2 separate regions of the Homo sapiens genome follow, and region 1 is linked to region 2. The links come from fine-mapping of genetic effects on gene expression. A gene starts in region 2. The other region holds a variant in brackets. All regions are shown on one strand. Distances are between the middles of the regions.

What was found.
Region 1: its variant is fine-mapped to the expression of FTSJ3 in adrenal gland (GTEx, PIP above 0.99).

Annotation. Positions count from the first base shown.
Region 1 is chr17:63,882,855-63,894,950 of GRCh38, forward strand. It overlaps CSH1 (chorionic somatomammotropin hormone 1), which reads right to left. Exons shown (of 5, transcript NM_001317.6): 5 at 12,064-12,096. Among named protein-coding and RNA genes, the nearest start is that of GH2, 7.0 kb to the left of the region's middle. The variant A/C (reference allele first, on the strand shown) is at 6,260.
Region 2 is chr17:63,824,313-63,832,716 of GRCh38, forward strand. It overlaps FTSJ3 (FtsJ RNA 2'-O-methyltransferase 3), which reads right to left and starts at 3,351. Exons shown (of 21, transcript NM_017647.4): 1 at 2,740-3,351; 2 at 2,524-2,616; 3 at 2,255-2,360; 4 at 1,946-1,992; 5 at 1,744-1,823; 6 at 1,224-1,323; 7 at 930-1,124; 8 at 736-851; 9 at 513-617; 10 at 325-425; 11 at 19-99. The coding sequence starts at 2,590. It overlaps PSMC5 (proteasome 26S subunit, ATPase 5), which reads left to right and starts at 3,119. Exons shown (of 12, transcript NM_002805.6): 1 at 3,119-3,202; 2 at 3,826-3,897; 3 at 5,182-5,251; 4 at 5,540-5,637; 5 at 5,821-5,877; 6 at 5,959-6,189; 7 at 6,497-6,623; 8 at 6,724-6,914; 9 at 7,015-7,113; 10 at 7,194-7,304; 11 at 7,412-7,498; 12 at 7,604-7,707. The coding sequence starts at 3,179. The coding sequence ends at 7,657. It overlaps SMARCD2 (SWI/SNF related BAF chromatin remodeling complex subunit D2), which reads right to left. Exons shown (of 13, transcript NM_001098426.2): 13 at 7,769-8,404. RefSeq lists enhancers at 2,464-3,663, 2,800-3,079, 3,460-3,509.

The DNA.
Region 1 (12,096 bases), 60 kb after region 2:
CCAAGGGCCTGCCTGTGCATTCTCACGTCTGAACTGCCACTTGTCTTGTGTAGGAGCTATGACTATCATCCCATTTCACAGATCAGGAGACTGAGGCTCAGAGAGACTGATTACATGAGCTACCTCAGCCAGGGCAGCAGATCTTCACAACCTTGCTCTTCCCACATTGCGTCATTTAAAGTCCTTTCTCCAGGCCGGGCACGGTGGCTCATGCCTATAATCCCAGCACTTTGGGAGGCTGAGGTGGGTGGATCACTTAAGGTCAGGAGTGCAAGACCAGGCTAACCCACATGGCAAAACTCCATCTCTCCTAAAAATACAAAAATTAGCTGGGCATGGTGGCACGAGCCCGTAATCCCAGCTACTTGGGAGGCTGAGGCAGGAGAATCGCTTGAACCCAGGAGGCAGAGGTTGCTGTGAGCCAAGATTGCGCCACTGCACTCCAGCCTGGATGACAGAGCGAGTCTACATCTCAAAAAAAAAAAAAAAAAAAATCCTTTCTCCATAGCACGTAGTGTGGTGCTACTCAGTTATTTAGTTATTTTAGCTTCATTTCCTTTTTTTTTTTTTTTGAGATGGAGTCTCATTCTGTCACCCAGGCTGGAGTTCAGTGGCATGATGTTGCTTCACAGCAACCTCCACCTTTGGGTTCCGGTGATTCTCCCGCCTCAGCCTCCCAAGTAGCTGGGATTACAGGCGTCCACCACTATGCCGGGCTAAGATTTGCACTTTTTTAGTAGAGACGGGGGTTTCACTATGTTGGCCAGGCTGGTCTCGAACTCTTGACTTTAGGTGATCCACCCTCCCTGGCCTCCCAAAGTACTGAGATTACTTGCGTGAGCCACTGCTCCCAACCCAGTTATTTCAGCTTCTATATCCCTCTGAGTGCAGGGATCCTGCCCCCAACACAAGGGGCCCTTTGCCTCATTTTGTCTTTCCATAAGGGGCAGATTGTTCTTTCTCAATTCTCAGGTGAGAATGGCCCAGTGGCATGGGGTGCCTTGTGGAAACCTCAGAGCAGGACAAGGTGAAGGCAGAGAAGGCCAGGACTGAGCCTCCTGTCTCCTGGTGCCCAGGGTTGGGGCTACTTCAATATAATCTGGAGGTCACAAGCATCAGATACCCCCAGAGATGAGAGCAGGAAAGAGCACCCTCTCTAGTGGTGAAATCTTCCCCCCTGAGTTTAAGAGCATCTAGCACTTGACTCTGTAGAAACACAAGCAAGCAAACAAGCAAATGCTTCCAGAAGTGGTTGGCTGTGGTGTTGGCAACCAACATTGAAAACCCACACCCCTGTGGCCTAGGATGTGAATGCTGGGGCCCTGCCATCTCCCCACTTTCAGAGCAGAAAACAGAGCTCCATTTTCTGCCATCATTCCTGAAACATTATCGGACCAGCACCCCAGACTCATCACCTGCTGGGAGGGCACTGTGCTGTGGGCTGTTCTCCAGGCCCGCCTGTGTGAGGATCCAAGAGGGGTGTCATCAATGATACCAGCTCTGAGAAATATGTGGCCAAGGGAGGGTGGAGTCACCACTTTCCCCTGCTCCTTCCAGCACCAGCAAAGAGGAGGAGCTAGGTGGGAATGGAAGAGGGTCCCTGAGCTCCATGTAGCTTTCTGCCTCCCCCACCATCCTTCCTCCAATGTCAGCTGGGACAGGGAGCCCCCATGACAGGTCCTTTTAGCCAGTTCTGGGGACTTCGATGTGGATTTTCGGCCATGGAAGAAGTCTCCAGCCTCCCTTAGGAATGAGGGTGGCAGGGGCCCTAGTTGGGGACCACTGCATAACTCCGCAGGTGGGCACAGGGGTGGCAAGGCTCCCCAGGCAGGTTACTGACAGCAACACGTGGGACCAGCCGGGGCAGGGGAGTGTCTCCTCTCACCTCTCCACTTCTGTTGACCCCAGAATTATGGTGACTCAGAGGACTCTAGGGACCCCTGGGGAAACACCTTTATAAGGGATTACCATGGTAACCATGGACCAGAGGGAAGAACTGAGGCCCACAGGTGTGGGTAGAAGTCAATGATCATTTTCTCTAGTCTAGATCTTCCCAGAGCCTTGAGCAATGGAGACCACATCCATCATTCATTGCTAGTAAAAAATCATCTTTGAATTAGACTTGGGATTCCCCTGACAGTACTGGGAGGTCGCCCACTGTTGGGGCATCACTTGAGGCCAGATCCCTGGCTCCTGCAGGCTGAGAGAGTACCCAACAAGAGCCTCCACATGGCCAATGGGGAGAGGCTGCGCTTTGCACCTCTGGCGTCAGCTTCAAAAGGCTCAGGATAGGCCGGCGTGGTGGCTCATGCCTGTAATCCCAACACTTTGGGAGGCTGAGACATGTGGATCACCTGAAGTCAGGAGTTTGAGACCAGCGTGGCCAACATGGTGAAACTGATCTCTACTAAAAATAGAAAAATTAGCCGGGTGTGGTGGCATGCGCTTGTAATCCTAGTTACTGGAGCGGCTGAGGCACAAGAATTGCTTGAACCTGGGAGGCAGAGGTTGTCATGAGCCGAGATCGCGCCACTGCACTCCACCCTGGGCGAAGGAGTGAGACTGACTTTGTCTCCAAAACAAACAAACAACCAAAAAAAACCAAAAAGAAAAGTAGAAAAATCCTCATCTCTGAGTTCACTGTTACCTAGCTCCTTACCCACCGAGAAACAAACATGGGAAGCAGGGGCCCCAGGGCCACCATGGACAGAGCAGGGTTATCATTTAGTCCAAATCCATAAGAACACCCTAGGTTTCATCTGGGACTCCCTGCCCATACGGAAAGTGGGAAAGAAGAGTTGGCTCAAAGCAGGGAGCTGCTAGTGCTCCCTTGGGAAGGAAAGCTGTTGGGTGGAGGGGACAGCATTTGGGTGAGGGGAGGAGAGGGAGCAGGGGGTGAAGTAGGGAGGGAGTGTGGTGCACTGAACTCAGCTCCTTGGGATACTGTTTCTGCAGACCAACCACGGTTAGAGGAATCCAGTTGCTCTGCCAAACAGACCTGGCTGGAAGGGATGGAACACACGCTCACCTGCGTCCCAAAGGGAAACCCAGCTCCAGCCTTGGTGTGTACCTGGAATGGGGTGGTCTTTGACCTTGAAGTGCCACAGAAGGCAACCCAGAACCACACTGGAACCTACCGCTGCACAGCCACTAACCAGCTGGGCTCTGTCAGCAAAGACATTGCTGTCATTGTTCAAGGTAACCTTTGCTGCCCTGCTGCCAGGCCCAGGATGGAAACCCCTCAGGGGTTTGGGATTCTTATCTAAGCATGAAAATAAGAAAGATTCTACTAGGTTGGGAAGAATGAGACTCAGAAGTGGGCCTGGTGGGCTGGGGTGGGTGATCCTTGTACTCTCAGACTTTCCTAACTCTATCTTCTGTGCTTGGGCAGGACTGGATGAAGGAATAAGCTCTACCCTCTTTGTCATTATTACCGTTGCCCTTGGAGTGGGTGTCATCACCATAGCACTGTATTTGAGCTATCGGCCCTGCAAAGTGGACAGGAGGAAATTGCTCTATAGGCAGAAAGAGGAGGACAAAGAGGAGGAAAGCCAGTTTGCTGTTCAGGAAGAGAAAAGTACAACTCATATAATTGACAACTGTTTGATTGAATGAGACTTCTGCTACTGTGGTTTCCCAGGGAGGGAAGAAGGGATAGAGGAGAAAGGAAGAAACACAATGGCAGGCTGCATTCCCCTTTGTGTACGTCTGTCCTGTAAAACGGTGTTTCAGGCCCCCATGCCCCATGTCCTGTGTGTCCAATATGTCCACAAGCTCACCATTCTCTCTCTCTCTCTCTTTTCTTTTCTTTTTCTTTTTCTTTTTTTTTTTTTTTGAGATGGAGTCTTGCTGTTGTCGCCTAGGCTGGAGTGCAATGATGCGATCCTGGCTCACTGCAACTGCAGCCTCCCGGGTTCAGGTGATTCTCTTGCCTCAGCCTCCCTGGCAGCTGGGATTACAGGTGCACACCACCATGCCTGTCTAATTTTTGTACTTTTCGTAGAGATGGGGTTTCACCATGTTGGCTGGGCTGGTCTCAAACTCCTGACCTCAAGTGATCCGGCCACCTTGGCCTCCCAAAGTGCTGGGATTACAGGTGTGAGCCACCGCGCCCAGCCACCTTTCTCTTTAGAGCTCACTCTATTCATTAGGAATCTCAGTCTCAATGTTTGATTTGTAAGAAGGCCTCTTGCTCCTTGCCAGGTGCATCATCAGTCCACTCTTAGATCCAAAAAAAAAAAAAGAAAAGATCTTGCCGTTTCTTCATGGTTCTCACTGCCCTTTTCTCTTAAACATCATACTAAAGTCAGGCATATCTTAGAAATACAACTCATATTTCATGGTTTTCTGATTACTAACTGGGAACTAAATCTGTAGTCCAAGGACAGGACTTTGAAGGGAGTAAGTATCAAATATGGGGCCAGGAATCAGAGCTCTGTTCCTATCTCCACTTTCCCTTGCTCCCCTGACCTGGGCTTCTGGAGGGCCAGCTCCCAGAGCTGAGCTTGTTGACATCATTAAGGATCAGTGGCAAGCTTCAACTCAGTAACCATCTGTTGCGGGTCTTGGGGGAGTATACAGATGGTAAGAAATTCCACTTTGGGCCAGACGGGCATCCTATCTAGCTCAGTATTCTGTCTCTGAAGGAGAAGGTAGAGTTCTTCCATGAAATTGGCCTCATAGGTTAAGAGCTCCAAACATCTCTGAATTCCTTTTCATAGAGTGATCAACTGTGAGTTCGCATTTGCCAGTTTTCTTTTTTTTACCCATATGGGCATCTAGGTTAAAGTTCCAATCTTTACTCTCCCTTTTCATCAATAAGTGCATATTTTCTTCTGTCTGTAAACAATTTCCTTGAAGCTTCAAGAGGAATCTTCTTGTGAAAATGTTCATATGATTTTATGTTTCAGCTTCTTTCCCTGTCCTTGAGAAAGAGTATATTCACCCTCGGAGAAGGCGTGAGGAATCACAGAACCAGATGTTTTCTCCCAAATCAGTCAAGAAATGTTCACTGGAATGTTGCTATGGTAAAAATAAAAGTGGTTTTATGATGTCCAAATGCAGTTCCCTTCCCTTCTGTGTCATTGCTAAAAGCTCTTATGTCAAATGGCTGCATTTTATAACTTTTTTTTTTAGATGGAGTCTCGCTCTTTGCCTAGGCTGGAGTGCAGTGGTGTGATTTCGGTCCACTTCAAACTCCACCCCCGGGTTGAAGCAATTCTCTGCCTCAGCCTCTATAGATTAAGAGTAGCTGGGATTACAGGCGCCCACCACCATGACCAGCTAATTTTTTGTATTTTTAGTAGAGACAGGGTTTCACCACCTTGGCCAGGCTGATCTTGAAGTCCCGACCTCGTGATCTACCCACCTCGGCCTTCTAAAGTGCTGGGATTACAGGCCTGAGCCATCACTCCCGGCTGCATTTTATAACTTTAAGTACAATTTCTAAGGAAAAAATACCGTGTTGATAGCATAAACAACCAGCCCAGGGCCGGGGGTGCATTAACTGAGGGCAGCAGCCTATTTGACCTGCTTTCAAAACTGAAATTCAGGCTGGTGTGGTGGCTCACGCCTGTAATCCCAGCACTTTGGGAGGCTGAGGCAGGTGAATCACTTGAGCCCTGGAGTTTGCGAATAGCCTGGGCAACATGGCAAAACCCCATTTCTACAAAAAACACAAAACTTAGCCAGGTATAGTGGCACATGCATGTAGTCCCAGCTACTTGAGAGTCTGAGGTGGGAGGATCACTTGAGCACGGGAGGTGGAGGGTTGCAGCGAGTTGAGATCATGCACTGCACTCCAGCCTGGGCAACGGAGCCAGGCCCTGTCTCAAAAGCAAAATAAAGGAACAAAAATGAAAGCTAAAGGTCAGACTTCCAGATAGAGAGAGGTCCATAGCCTTCCAAATTGCAGATACCAGCTAGAAAAAACCATGGCATCAGACAGCAGAGGGAAAACGTTTTCCCATTCTTCCCAGACCTCCCCTGAGTCTGGTGCTATAGATTAAGTGTAAAAGTAACCCTTTGGTTTCACCACATACAAGGCAGTGGGGATACAGTGGTGAACAAAACATTGTTCCTGGCTTCCAAAAATATATTAGGAAAGCTAGACAAACAAGTAGGAGATTACATTTGTGCATGAACTCCTATGACTGGGAAAACAGATTGTTAAGAGAAAGCATAACTCGGATCAAGGAAGGCTTCCCGGAGGGACACGAAATATCTTGACTTTGTAAAATAGCATCATCCCCGAACATGA[A/C]CTTTTCAACCTCAATGTTTCCACTAGGTGGAGCTACTGCTCCTTCATCATGTGAGTCTAATATAAATCATCCACCTTCCCTGAATTGAGCATTTGGGGAAGTAAGTTAAGAAGCAGGTTTAAGAGACAGGAGTATACAGCCACACCATGCAGGGATCCACAGCCATTTTGGTGTCAGGATCAGTCGCATCAGGGCTGTAGTTACCCTGTATCTGCAAACCCTGCCTCATGGCCTCAGTGCCTTGAAGCACAGCGAATCCAAAAAGGAAGGGAAAAATGAGCCAGGCATGGTGGTGTGCACCTGTAATCCCAGCTACTGGGGAGGCTGAGGCAGAAGAATCGCTTGAACCCGGGATACTGAGGTTGCAGTGAGCCAAGATTGCACCATTGCACTCCAGCCTGGGCAACAGAGTGACACCCCATCTTGAAGAAAACAAAAACAAAAGCAAACAAACAAAAAACAAAACAAACAAAACAAAAAAAAGAGGGAAGAAGGGGGCCACTTGGACTTTCTAGTTCCAGCAGGGAGATCCTGGAGGCTTAGCCGGCTGCTGCCTTTGCTTCTCACTGCCACAGGGTGTCAGTGTTGACAGATGGTCCCACACAGTACCCTCAAACCAAGCGGGTCTGCAGATCCGGGTTCCCAGCTGCTGTGGATCTCTGAGGGAGGATGATCTGCTTCTTCGGGGCCTGGTCCAGCTGCGGGTGTCCTCTTGCTGGGGTTTCCAGGGTTCCAGTTCTTAGAGCTCAGTAGTTTGGATGAGCCGTCCCGCAAAGCTCTTCAGAGTAGGCTGGGCTGTTTCCCTTGTAGACTTGGAACCTCTGTTCGCTTTCCTTCCCGAAGGATCCACACAACCAGTGGTCAGGCAGGCAGCCCCTTCTCATTGATTCTTTTTTTTCTTTTCTTTTTTTTTTTTTTTGGAGACAGAGTCTCGCTCTGTCTCCCAGGCTGGAGTGCAGTGGCACAATCTCGGCTCACTGCAACTTCTGCTTCCCAGCTTCAAGCAATTTTCCTGCCTCAGCCTCTGGAGTAGCTGGGATTCCAGATGTGCGCCACCACACCCGGCTAATTTTTGTGTTATTAGTAGAAACAGGATTTCATCATGTTGGCTAGGCTGGTCTCAAACTCCTGACCTCAGGTGATCTGCCCAGCTTGGCCTCTCAAAATGCTGGGAGTACAGGCGTGAGCCACCACACCCGGCTTCATTGATTCTTAAAGTAGGAAGGGTCTCATATCTCTTTTCCAGTATAATAGAGCTTCTAAGGGTAGCTGCCTCATTGTCTATAAGAGGAGGCCCCACCCTCTAAATGGTTTTGATCATATTCTTTCTGAACATTAAAGCAACCAGCTTATGCTTAAATTGCAGCTACCTTGATTATCTCCAGAGGAAGAGTGGCCTTTAATACTCCAAAAGTTTACCCTCTTTCTTACTATTTTTGAGAGAGAATCTTGCTCAGCCATCCAGCTGGAGGGCAGTGGCATGATGGGCTCAGTGCAACTCTGCCTCCTGGGCTCAAGTGATTCTCGCGCCTCAGTAGCTGGGAATACAGGTGTGCACCATCACACCTGGTAATTTTTGTATTTTTAGTAAGAGACGGGGTGCCACCATGTTGGCCAGGCTTGTCTCGAACTTGTGACGTCCTCCCGCCTCAGCCCTCCAAAGTGCTGAGATAACTGGCGTGAGCCACCGTGCCTGGCCGTTTATCCTCTCAAGGATGGTCAGGGTGACATTCTGGTGTCTTTCTCTCTAGACCTGAGAAAGCATAAGTTACATCGTTAGTGGGACTTCTTACCATAGGATTAATAATAGTATTTACCTTAGAGAATTATAATTAGAAAGAAATGACACAATACATGTAATAAACTAGCATGGTGCTGGAGATATGTGTTCACATTAGTTGTTTTTTATTATTACACTGATAATTCTAGTGGTAATTAAGCACATCTTTATAATCACAGTAAACTCAAAGCAAGAATCAGAAATCCATGATAACCATGAGGGCCATCAAAGGTCATATACACCGAGCACAGCTTTCCGGTTTTTCTAGTCTTTTTCTTGCTCCTTCCCCTACTTTCCCCACAGTTTGGTACCCTAAGATTTAGGACTACTAATAGGGTGACCAGTCCTGTTAGCTGAGTGTTCATTCAGCTGAGGGATCCCTGGAAGGAACGTGGGACTTTCAGTGTTGACATTGAGAAAGTCTCCTGCAAACTAGGACGAGTTGGTAACCCTAATCCCAGCGGTGCTCATTGTGTGCCACAGCACTTCAGGGCCTTCTGAATTAAAGAAGCAGCCAGGCAAAATGTCAGCTTGTCTTGGCCTAGAAGCCCAGACCCTGTAATTCAGAAGAAAAGGGAAGGGGTCAGTTCTGCTCTCAACTGTGTATAAAGGGACAAAACCCACCATGTGTATTTCGACAATGCTCATGGAAGAAATTCAGAATTGGTCACTTTAGGTTAGGGTAAATTCAAAAAAAATGACAGAGTCAGTAAAACATTATGCCAGGGGTCAAGGATGACTGGAGCTCTGCCTGCTGAACTCTTCCCTGTGCGAGTCTCACTAATCTTATCTTCAGGAAGAGTTTTCGATAGAAAATACCATTAAGGGCCAGGCCTGGTGGCTCCTGCCTATGATCCTATCACTTTGGGAGGCCAAGGTGGGTGGATCACCTGAGGCCAGGAGTTTGAGACCAGCCTGGCCAACATGGCGAAACCCTGTCTTTACCAAAAATACAAAAATCTGCCCTGTGTGGTGGTGCACACTTATAATCCCAGCTACTCAGGAGGCTGAGGCATGAGAATCACTTGAACCTGGGAGGAGGCGGAGGTTGCAGTGAGCCAAGATCCCACCACTGCACTCCAGCCTCTGTCTCAAAAACAAAAACAAAAACAAAACAAAAAGAAACTATTAACAATTTTTAGTTGTGAGAAGATATAAACGTTTCCATCTTAACCATTTTGCCTGTGCAGTTCAGTCATGTCAAGTACATTGACATCGTCATGCAACCCTCACCACCAACCATCTCCAGAACCCTTTTCATCTTGCACAGCTGAAACCCTGTGCTCATTAAATAGCTCCCTATTCCATCCCTCCCCACAGCCACTGGCAGCCACCATCCTACTTTTTGTCTCTATGAATTTGACTGCTCTGAGTACCTCATCTGACTGGAATCGGAGAGTATTTGTCTTTTTGTGACTGGCTCACGATAAACACTTTTAGATGACTGGTTGGAATTAGGAGCAGGTGGCACCACAACTGCCATCTCCTTTTTCTCCTTTTTCTCATCTCCTTTTTCTCTGTTTTCCCTGTTCCACCAGTACAACAGCTGTGAACACATGGGTCTCATCTTTGCGGTCCCTAACACGGTGGTTCTCAACCTTGTTTACATGTTAGAATCACCTGGGAAAGTTTTCAAATTACTCTTGCCTGGACCACATTCCAGTCTAATTATATCAGAATCTCAGGGAGTGAGGGCTCACGAATGCATCGTTTAGAAAACACCCTAGGCATCTCAAATTTGCAGCGGAAATTGCTGTCCACACCAAGTTGATGAGCTGAAATGTAGACTAACAGTGGGTAAATCAAAGAGTTTAAAGTAGATGGTCTTTAAGGTCTTTTTATATTTTAAAATGTGCAAAGTTGGTAGTATCTTTCTAATTCTCAACCAGCAGTGGTTGAGTGGAGTTTCCTATACCCGAGGGGAGCTGGGTGGACAGTCTCTGGAGTGTGGCTCCCCCTGCAGTTCAGTTACATGTTATGACCACCCCACTTTAGAACCCTCTTAGCCACCCAAGTAGGCGCTGGACATTGTCATTCCACTGTCACGTGCATTCAACAAATACTTATTAAGATGGCTCACATTTCCTTTTAAAACACGCAAGCCGAGAGATAATTATAATTGTGCTCATTCCATCAACTTCTAAAGACTGAGATTTCTAAATAATTTTAAGGCCAAATGAAGGACATTGCAGGAATATTGATTCCAGCTTCGTGCAAGAAATAGTTTTTTGCAATGAGAGTGGTTTAATAGAATGAGGAGCCTTGTGAAAGTGATTCCCTTGGTTCTAGTGCTACACACTCGTAAATGGAATACTGACTGTAATGGATGTTGTAGGATAAGATTCCCAAAGTAGAAGAAACTAGGCTGACTTATGAGGCCCTTCTAACTCCAAAATGCCATAATTTTAAAGCCCGATAGTAGAAGAACAATGCAAGATGCAGGAATGGCTTCTGAGCTGAGAAATGCAGCAGCTCCAGAATTCTGTTTAGTTCAACTTTCAACCACTTCCCAAGGACTGAGTTATTAATGGTAAAATAGCCAAAAATGAATACAAGTGGGTCTCATTATCAAGAAAATTCATTATAGCATTTAAGAATCGAACTTCTAAAGAAGATTAATTGGGGGGTTGATTATTTGCATTGCAAAACAATTCCTGACTTTATGAAATCATTTTTGGATACTAGAGTTCCTGTGAGCATCTTAGCATCGATTTATAGGTCACCAGTCACTTAGCCAAGGTGCTTGGGAGAGCAAACTCTTAACTAACCACCGCTCTTTAGTGCTTATTTGGAAATAATAAACATCTGAGATGTTTATTATTTCCTAATTGTCATTAGGAAAACAATATAATTTCACTACAGGTATTTAGACACTCCATCAGAAAACACAAAACATCCAAAAATTCAATGCAGAAATAGCTAGAATTTCTTGAGTACTATAATATATCAAAAATACCATTGCATTTAGTCCTCACATAATCCTTGTAAAGCAATATATTATTATCTCAGCTTGGTCAAGTAATTTATTCGGGGGCACTAAATTACATACAGCCCAAATCTTTCTGATTCTTTCCCTTACACCAAGTTACCCCAATCAACATCTCTTAGAACAAAATTGCTCACAGACAGCTTGGAGACCATGTGTGTTTCGGTTAATTTTTGCCCTTAAAAGATTTTCAATATGTGTTGCCAGTGTTTAAATGTTAGAATTCCTGTAAAAGTCTGGATGTCCTGGCTGTCTCAAAAGGTCAGAAGGTCTGGAAGCCGTGTCCCTGCAGTCCTGATGGTGACAGGCTGGGTGGGTCCCACCTCAGCAGGGGCCTGAGTTCTGCAGATTGTGCTGGTTCCCACCCCTCTGTGTTGCATCCCCCGAAGGGAAGTGAGTGTCATCTGGGATTTATCCCCTCCCATCCAGCCCTCATTGCTTACATTGTTATCTACCTGGAACCTGTTGGCACTGCATTTACAACCCCAAATAAAATCTCTCTTCCACTTCCCTTGCCCTAATTCAGATTCCAAATGCTCTGGTTCTGTATGTCTCAAACTCATTTTTGCATTGTTCTCATTTCCCGAGAGTAGTTGGGCTTAAGGAATACTCATCTTAAAATTCTTCCGAACACAAGTAATTCTATGCCATTGTTTCCTCACCTGTTGGGGAGTTTTTGCCTCTGCACTTAATAGCCCATCTTGTTTTCATTTCTTTCCGCTCCTGGGGGGCTAGGTTTGGTGTTGCTGGTGATGGTGGGGGAGGAAGAAATGCCTTCAAGTCATCTCTGAGATGACCAATGGGCTGTGACCAGCAAGCTGGGACCACTGAGCTGGTGGAATGGCCTTAGTGAGTAATAGACAGCAGTGATGTGTCAGCTTTTTTCTGGCCCAGGAACAGCCAAACCTCTTATATTTCAGTGGCCTAGTTCCCAATAGACCTTGAAGGCCCTCCAGGTCTTCTTTCCACCTACCCCTTGCTCCATACCACCACCTTCCACCCCATAATATTATAGAATGACACCTAGTCAGATGAAATGATACAACTTAATTTTATTAGGACAAGGCTGG
Region 2 (8,404 bases):
GCTGCGTTCTCTCCTCACCTGATGTCCAGTGCCTTTGCTTGTTCTTTCAGCTTCTTGGCCACATATCGCCGAAGTTTTGTTCTCCAGTTTAGTAGCGACCTGCCCCAGAGATACTATTACTGATCTTGCCATCTCCCTCTTTGTCCCCGCCCCCTTCTGTTTTAGGCTCACTACCCACCTTTCGGGCTTCGGCTACATAAATCAAAAGGCTCAGGCCCCCATCCCAAACCTTTAGCACAGCAATATCCTCTTCCCAGAGGTCCAACATCATGGCCTTTCCCTGCCTCCAGGGCTCCTGGCCCCCGTGCCTACCCCACTCCATACCTGAGCTCCTTGCGCCCCAACACTCTGATGTCCTGACAGCACACCCGTATGTCCTCAGTGGTAGCTGGATGCTGTGCCAACTCTTCATCATCTACCATGATCTGTTTGGGAGGATGGAAAGGTGTCAGGGGAGATCCTCAGGCCATGTTTCTGGGGCTACCTCATGTCCCTCAAGGCTGGAGACTCACTTCGCTGGCCTTGGAGAGGAAGTCAACAGGGTTGGCAGCTCGGAGGAAGTCAGTGACTGAGGTACGGTGATAGAGAGTGAGGTCACCCTCAGCATAGCCTTCAGCCTTAGGAAGGAAAAGAGAGAAGCTTGGTCAGGCCCTTCTAAGGTACCTGTAGGACCCACCAGGCCCAACCTCCCTAGAGTTCCAGGACCCAAGAGTGACCCCATTCCCCAAAACACACCTTTGGCTTCTTCTTAGTAACCAATTCAGTAACGGTCTTAGCCTGAACTTCAACCTCCTTAAAGGCAAATTTGGGGTCAAAGAATTTACTGTCAACCTTGTCAGGGGCCAGGAATCCTAAAAATGACAGGATATATTAAAAAGTGTGCTTTGGGAGTTGGGAGCCTGGATCAAGAGAAAGGAAATGATGCCCACCTTGGCAGACTACAAAGATCTCTGCAGATTCATGGCGAGAGGCTTGGGGCTTGGTGGCCTGGACACGGCGGAACAGCTGCTGAAAGATCCATAGCAGAGGCTGATAGTCACGAGAACGGAAAACCTTTGTGATGAAGCTGCCACCACGGGCCAAAAAGTCACAAGCCAAACGTAGAGCCATCAGTGTCAAATGGGCTGTAGGATAGAGACAATTAGTTGACGCACTCTGCAGCCCAGGAGGGCATGCGCCCACCTCCACCATCACCTGATCTCCAAGCACCACACTCCCTGTACCTTGTGAGTAAGCATCATGGACCCAGCTAGCCCCAACGTTGGGGGCCCCATCATTGAGCACAACATCAACCTTCCAGGTCTTCAGCTCCTTCCTCAGGGCCTAAAGAGAAGAAAAGGAACTATGGAAACAGAAACACTGGAATGGCCCTGGTTCAGCCATTTGTCCATCTAGTCATTTGCTGAGTGCCCATCATGGGCCAAATGCAGTACCAGGCACAGGAGATACAATAGTAAACAAAAACAGTATGTCTCTACCTTCATGGAGATTACAGTCTGACACTGAATTCACAGGAGAAGACTTCACTAAAGATCTCTGCCCTTCTCCCAATTCCAAACACCTTTATCCCTGACTCTAAATAAAGCCTGGAGTGGACACTACGAATGCCATAGGTCTTGTCGTACAGATGTCAGGCAAGAACGTGCTCAAAGCACGGTAAAAAGGAAAAACTTGCCTTTAGAGGATTTCAGGGATGTAGATGTTTCCGTATAAAGGGGGAAGGAAGAGAGAGACTCCTATTACCTGCCTACAACGTTCTGTTGTGATGTCCTGCTGGAGAGTCACCACATTGGGGAGAGGCTTGATTGGAACCAGGTCCACTCCTGGAAGAAATCAGGTCAGAGTATTCTAAAAGGTTGCTTCAAGCAGGGAGGAGAGAAATACAGGACAAAATACCTTATACACCCACCCCTTAAAACACCAAGGAGAGCTGTCCGTTACTCACCCACAATAAGGCTGGATACAGGCATAAACTTGGCAGCTACCTGCAGCCTATAAAAGGAACAGAAATTTAAAAACCTAGAGCCATCCTTTTCCCCCTCTTGGCAACTGATCTCTCATCCCTGGTGTTACGTGTACTGGCCAAAGCATATCATAGGCACGTATTCCAAGCCCTTTCTCTGCAATCAAGAAAGGAAACGGCCCCCAAGAGGACCGGGATTCGGGTTCCCCTCCCGCAGTGAAACTGGAAGCCATCCCAGCTCAGAACCCAGAAAGCGGCCACCAGGAGCAACCTGTGGCGAGTGTTACGAACCATCCCCCTGGCGCAGCACACAGGTCCAGCAAGGCTCGGGCTTTCTGCAGGAACTGAAAGCGGCGATTGAGCTGGATCAGCTTGAAAGCAGATCGGGAACGGTAACCTGGACAAAACAACCAAGTGCGCAAACTGCTTCACTAGTAGGATTTCTCCGGCCTCGCAACCGACCACCCCTTCTGCAGGAGAGGTACATAATGGTCGCAAAGAGCAGGCGAACCGGGCAGAGATCGCTCGCTCGCTCGCAGACTGAGCGAATCCGGACTCACCCGTCTCCTTCGCCAAGTGATAAAACTTGTCTCGTCGGCTCTTGCCAACTTTGCCCTTCTTGCCCATGGTGGAAAGGGGGAGTATCCCTCAATCTGGGGAGAAAGTAGAAGTTGGGAACGTCTCTTTCCGGAGCACCAGATTCCACTTCCAGTTTCCCACTTCCAGTTTCCCACTTCCCGCAGCAATTCCACCCCGCGCCCCTCTCCGCACACTACCTAGACCCAGAGCCGCTTTCTCCACACTTGGAACCGCACAAGTATGCAGCTAACTACTTCCGCTTCCGCTTGCGTCCCCTGCGTCCCTGGCTCGAGGTTTTCCGCCATTTTGAGTGTGGCCCTAGATTGTTCTCAATACTCTGTCCTTGGGTTTTGTAAGTTGAAAGTTGAGACTAGGAAGGCATATCACAAGAACTATAAACAGAGTTTCAATGAGGCAACACTGAGGAGGAGTTCTACTCCTTCCTCATCCCCTTCCAAAGCCCCTGAACTCGAGTAGCCGCCCCTCCCATCATGGTTCCCTTAGTGTGGTCTCGCCGCACACCCCGCCCATTGACCCGGAATTCTTCTCTGCCTGGTCTTCAGGTCCCAATCCTCCGCTTCCGCGCTTGCGCGCCAAGACGGCTCGGATGCCGGCGGTCTCTGCTGAAGAGAGAAGATGGCGCTTGACGGACCAGAGCAGGTATGGCGGGTGCAGTGGCGGCCCGGCAGGTTACGGGGCTGGGTGCGGAGCGAGCGTGATCTGAGTGGAGAGCGGGCCGGGGCAGGAGCGTCGGGTGGGTCGGAGGTGCCTGGACCAGTCCATGCTGGACGCTGCCTGCGACCGGATCTGCTGTGTCAGCGCCGCCCTCGGTGAGTCAGGGCAAGGCTGGGAGAGGAAGACGCGGTAGAAGCGGAGTGAGTGAGGGAAGCGATGGGCGCGGGAATGGCCGGCCCACGGGTCGCAGGAGACGGGACGCCAGTCCTTTGGCTCCGTTCCGCTGGCTCCTTCGTCAGTACTGACACCTCGGGCTTGTAGAGCACTTCACGCAGTGCAAAGCGCCCCCCGTCTATATCATATCGCCTCTCGGTCCTCCTAAAAGTCGTATGAGGTAGGCGGCGTTCCCATTCTTTTATTTTAGTCCTGGGAAAATGGAGGGTTCCAAGGGAGGGAGGGATTAGAACCCAGATCCTGAGCCTCCGAAGTCCAAACTTTTTCTACTACGCAAAGCTACCTGGTGTCAAGCCTTATTCAAAGTGCCCTGCAAGTGGCTTTACCCCCTCGGATGTTTAACCTGTCGTTTAAGACTCACTCTGTGTCTTCAGATGGAGCTGGAGGAGGGGAAGGCAGGCAGCGGACTCCGCCAATATTATCTGTCCAAGATTGAAGAACTCCAGGTGAGGACGGACTCCAGAGGGAGCTAGGAAGGGTGATGATGGGGGATGGAAACGGACTTCCACAAATCCATCTAATTCCTTTGGGAGTGCAGTGGAAGAAGCTGCTGCTTCTCCTTTCTTGTTTGTTTCTTAGCTAGTAGGGTGTATGTATCAGAAGTAAGCAATCTCTTGTTCTCCTCCAGTCCCATCTCTTTGAGGGTCTTAGTGTTCACAGTTTGTTACACATCTTCGAGTCAAATCTTAATAGTAAAGGTACCTCTAGCCAAAGGTCAACCCTTTTGGAAGAAGCCCGAATGAAAAGGATTCTTATAAAAGGGAAACATAAGCTCAGGAGTTGAAATTTATCACCAAGAGGTTGGGTGAGGGTGAAGTGAGAATGTGAGGAAGGGCATCATTGAGGGATCTGGACAATGCTAATTCCATAGAGACTGAATGAAAGAAATTGGGCAACCCAGAGCCCTAGCCTAAAGCGCTAAACCATAGAAAAAGGACCGTTTATGTTGTTAATCAAATGTTTGTGTTACCAGTAAGGCTTCCAGCAGTAAGGTATGGCTTCCAGTAGTAAGCCTTACAGACAACATAAACAGTAGTCTGTTAGTGTTACGTTATACTGTTACGGTAGGCTGTTAGTAGTTTAACTTTGGACAGGTCCATGGATTTTCAATTTCACCCTAACCCCCTGCGTTGTTCAAGTGTCAACTGTAATATAAATTGGATGGGGGAAAGCCACAAAAGACAATTCTGAATTCCAAGTGCATTTGCAGGTATTATGTTTAGTTTACCATTTTTGAATGCTTTTTCATGTGTTTTTATTCGTTCACCTTAGTAGTCTTGAAGCAGGGTAGCTGATGCTATACCCATGTGCCGTTTGGTAACAGATCTAGATTTTTAAAAATAGATTGTCTTACCTTTACTTTGCTTTTGATTGACAGCGGCTGGGCTAGAACTCAGGTTTCTCACCTAACAATCTTTCCACCAGGTGTTGTTGCCTTCCTGCAAGAAATTTGGTGTTACATGAGCCAGCTGTAACTTTTCTCCATTAGATTCTGTTACTCCTGGACCAGTATTGGACAAGCAGCCTTCTTTGATGGCTGCTGTAAGGTCCAGAGGGACTCTTGAAGGACAGGGCAGGGTCATTAGGATCATACTGGAGAATCTGAAACAACATGCAGGTGCCCTGTGCCCTTCCCTCAGCTCATTCAGACCTGTGAGGTCTTGGCCAAGATCCTACCTCCTCCTGTCTCCTGCCCTTGAATAATGGAATTTGTCTCTTGTCTGCCACAGCTGATTGTGAATGATAAGAGCCAAAACCTCCGGAGGCTGCAGGCACAGAGGAACGAACTAAATGCTAAAGGTGAGTGGAGAAAGATGGGAAGCCGCATGTGGGCAGTTTGTCTGAGGTCTGTCCTTATCTCCCTGCACTGTGTCTTCACAGCAGTGCTTACTGTTTTCTCCCTGTCATCATCTAGTAGTTTCACATGCATCTCTTTTTCCTGAGCCCTATTGTAGCCTCCTTAAATACATGAATTTTGACCTTTGGCCTTCCTTTAATAAGAGTGATGCTTAGCTCATGCACGTAGAATTGGGTCCTGGAGACTCCAAAGGAGTAGCTAGGTGACCACTGTGTCTGTTTGCCATCTAGTTCGCCTATTGCGGGAGGAGCTACAGCTGCTGCAGGAGCAGGGCTCCTATGTGGGGGAAGTAGTCCGGGCCATGGATAAGAAGAAAGTGTTGGTCAAGGTAAAAGCAGCATGACCCCAGGGACCAGCTCGGTCTCCACTGCATTCCCACCCCTTTGTGTGTAGCCTCGGGAGACAGGGTTCTGTGTTCTGTCAAGGTATTGTGGGATTCTCATAGGTCTTCCTGGGTAGGATTAGTGATTTGGTGGCTGTCAAGGAAGGTCATGAGCCCTTGTTTCTTTAGGTACATCCTGAAGGTAAATTTGTTGTAGACGTGGACAAAAACATTGACATCAATGATGTGAGTGTAGCAGGTGAGGTGGTGGTGGTGGTGGGGTCAGCTCTTACTGTACCACTTCTGAAACTCGCCCCCTTCACCCAGGTGACACCCAATTGCCGGGTGGCTCTAAGGAATGACAGCTACACTCTGCACAAGATCCTGCCCAACAAGGTAGACCCATTAGTGTCACTGATGATGGTGGAGAAAGTACCAGATTCAACTTATGAGATGATTGGTGGACTGGACAAACAGATCAAGGAGATCAAAGAAGTGATCGAGCTGCCTGTTAAGCATCCTGAGCTCTTCGAAGCACTGGGCATTGCTCAGCCCAAGGTGAGGAGCAGGGCTTCTCTGAGAGGGCCAAGCTGTACTTACTCCTCCTGCCCCAGCCAGCCCTACTGCAGGGGTTGGGGAGGCACCGGGATAGGCTGCATCTTGCTTGGGCTGGCCCTCCCCCTGAAAAGAGTGGCTGGGGAAGTGTTCCTAGGGCGGTGAGGTGGTTTGGATAGAAGGGACCTTGATGTTCCTTTTTTTTTTTTGTATCCCTAACATCTAGCAAGGGACCCAGCACTCGGTAAATGTTCACTGAATGAAATGAGGGGTGTAGCTTTCTGCCCTGAGTCCTGCTGTTCCCCTGTAGGGAGTGCTGCTGTATGGACCTCCAGGCACTGGGAAGACACTGTTGGCCCGGGCTGTGGCTCATCATACGGACTGTACCTTTATTCGTGTCTCTGGCTCTGAACTGGTACAGAAATTCATAGGGGAAGGTAACCATGGCTAGCAATGTGAGAAGCAAGAGGTAGGGGTAGGGGGTTAGAGAGCTAATAAGCTAATAAGCTCCCTAACACCAGCTCGGCCTCCACACAGGGGCAAGAATGGTGAGGGAGCTGTTTGTCATGGCACGGGAACATGCTCCATCTATCATCTTCATGGACGAAATCGACTCCATCGGCTCCTCGCGGCTGGAGGGGGGTTCTGGAGGGGACAGTGAAGTGCAGCGCACGATGCTGGAGTTGCTCAACCAGCTCGACGGCTTTGAGGCCACCAAGAACATCAAGGTAAGGTGGTAGCATCCTTGGGATGGGCCCAGGGAAGGCCTGGGTGCCACGCAGGCTGAGGAAGAGGTTTAGCTGATCCCCACTTGCTTTCTCTGCTCAGGTTATCATGGCTACTAATAGGATTGATATCCTGGACTCGGCACTGCTTCGCCCAGGGCGCATTGACAGAAAAATTGAATTCCCACCCCCCAATGAGGAGGTTTGTGATGGACACTGTGCAAAGTGGCTCTGGCTGTGGGGGTGGGGTGTGGGGCTCAGGCTTTTCCTTGCCATCTCCAGGCCCGGCTGGACATTTTGAAGATTCATTCTCGGAAGATGAACCTGACCCGGGGGATCAACCTGAGAAAAATTGCTGAGCTCATGCCAGGAGCATCAGGGGCTGAAGTGAAGGTAATTGGAGTACCCACTGAAAACAGGGCAGAGGCAGGAAGCTCTGGGCTCAAGGGCCACAGATGAGGGGCACAGCAGTGGGGCCTCAATTTCCTTTTCCTGTTCAGGGCGTGTGCACAGAAGCTGGCATGTATGCCCTGCGAGAACGGCGAGTCCATGTCACTCAGGAGGACTTTGAGATGGCAGTAGCCAAGGTATAGGCCTCCATCTTTGTGCCTTTGCCAGTGGTGGCTCTGGGGCAGTGGGCTAGGGCATGTGTGTGTTCGTAACTTAATGTTCATTCTCTCTCCCACCCCTAGGTCATGCAGAAGGACAGTGAGAAAAACATGTCCATCAAGAAATTATGGAAGTGAGTGGACAGCCTTTGTGTGTATCTCTCCAATAAAGCTCTGTGGGCCAAGTCCTCTAGGACTCCAGTCTGTTAATGAGGGCTGTGCTGTTCAAGGACCAGGTCCAGGCACCACCAATAGACAAAAGGATTTATTTGGAAATTTCCAAACCTGCCAGATGTGGCACTCGCCAAGCCCTAGGCCCACCCTCCTCACCAAGCTCCAAAGGGCAACACCAGTCCTCCCAGCCTCCCCATTCACCTTACCCTGGCCTCCACATGCACATACCCCATACCTCAGGCCATGCTAGAGAACTGGAGTGTCCCCTCCCCGGCCCAAGCCGCTGGAGAGGCAGCCCTCTGGCATCCCAGGAGATGATGGCGGCCAGAGCCGCTTGCATAGATTGAGGAAAGAAAAGAAGGAGGCACCTAACAGGCTCCCTGAAAACCCCCAACTTACCCCTGTACAAAAAAAGTGGCTCCCACATAGAAAACTTGCTCCCAAAATAGTGCAAATACCCAAAGGAAAGGAAAAAACCAGCAGCAAGGCTGGGCTTGTAGGAATGGCAAAGAACTTTGGTTTAGAAAGGCTAGGAAGAGTCTGGGCTGCACCTCCTCTTCCTAGCCCAGCTCCCCAGAGCCAGCTCTGACCCTCGCCCCAGGGGGAGTCTGTAAACATGCAAACCCAGCAGCCTTTGGTTCGGAAATGTCTTACAATGTCAAAGCACAGCCTCCAGCAGTCCTACTTGGGCCTGCCTGCAGGGGGGCAGAG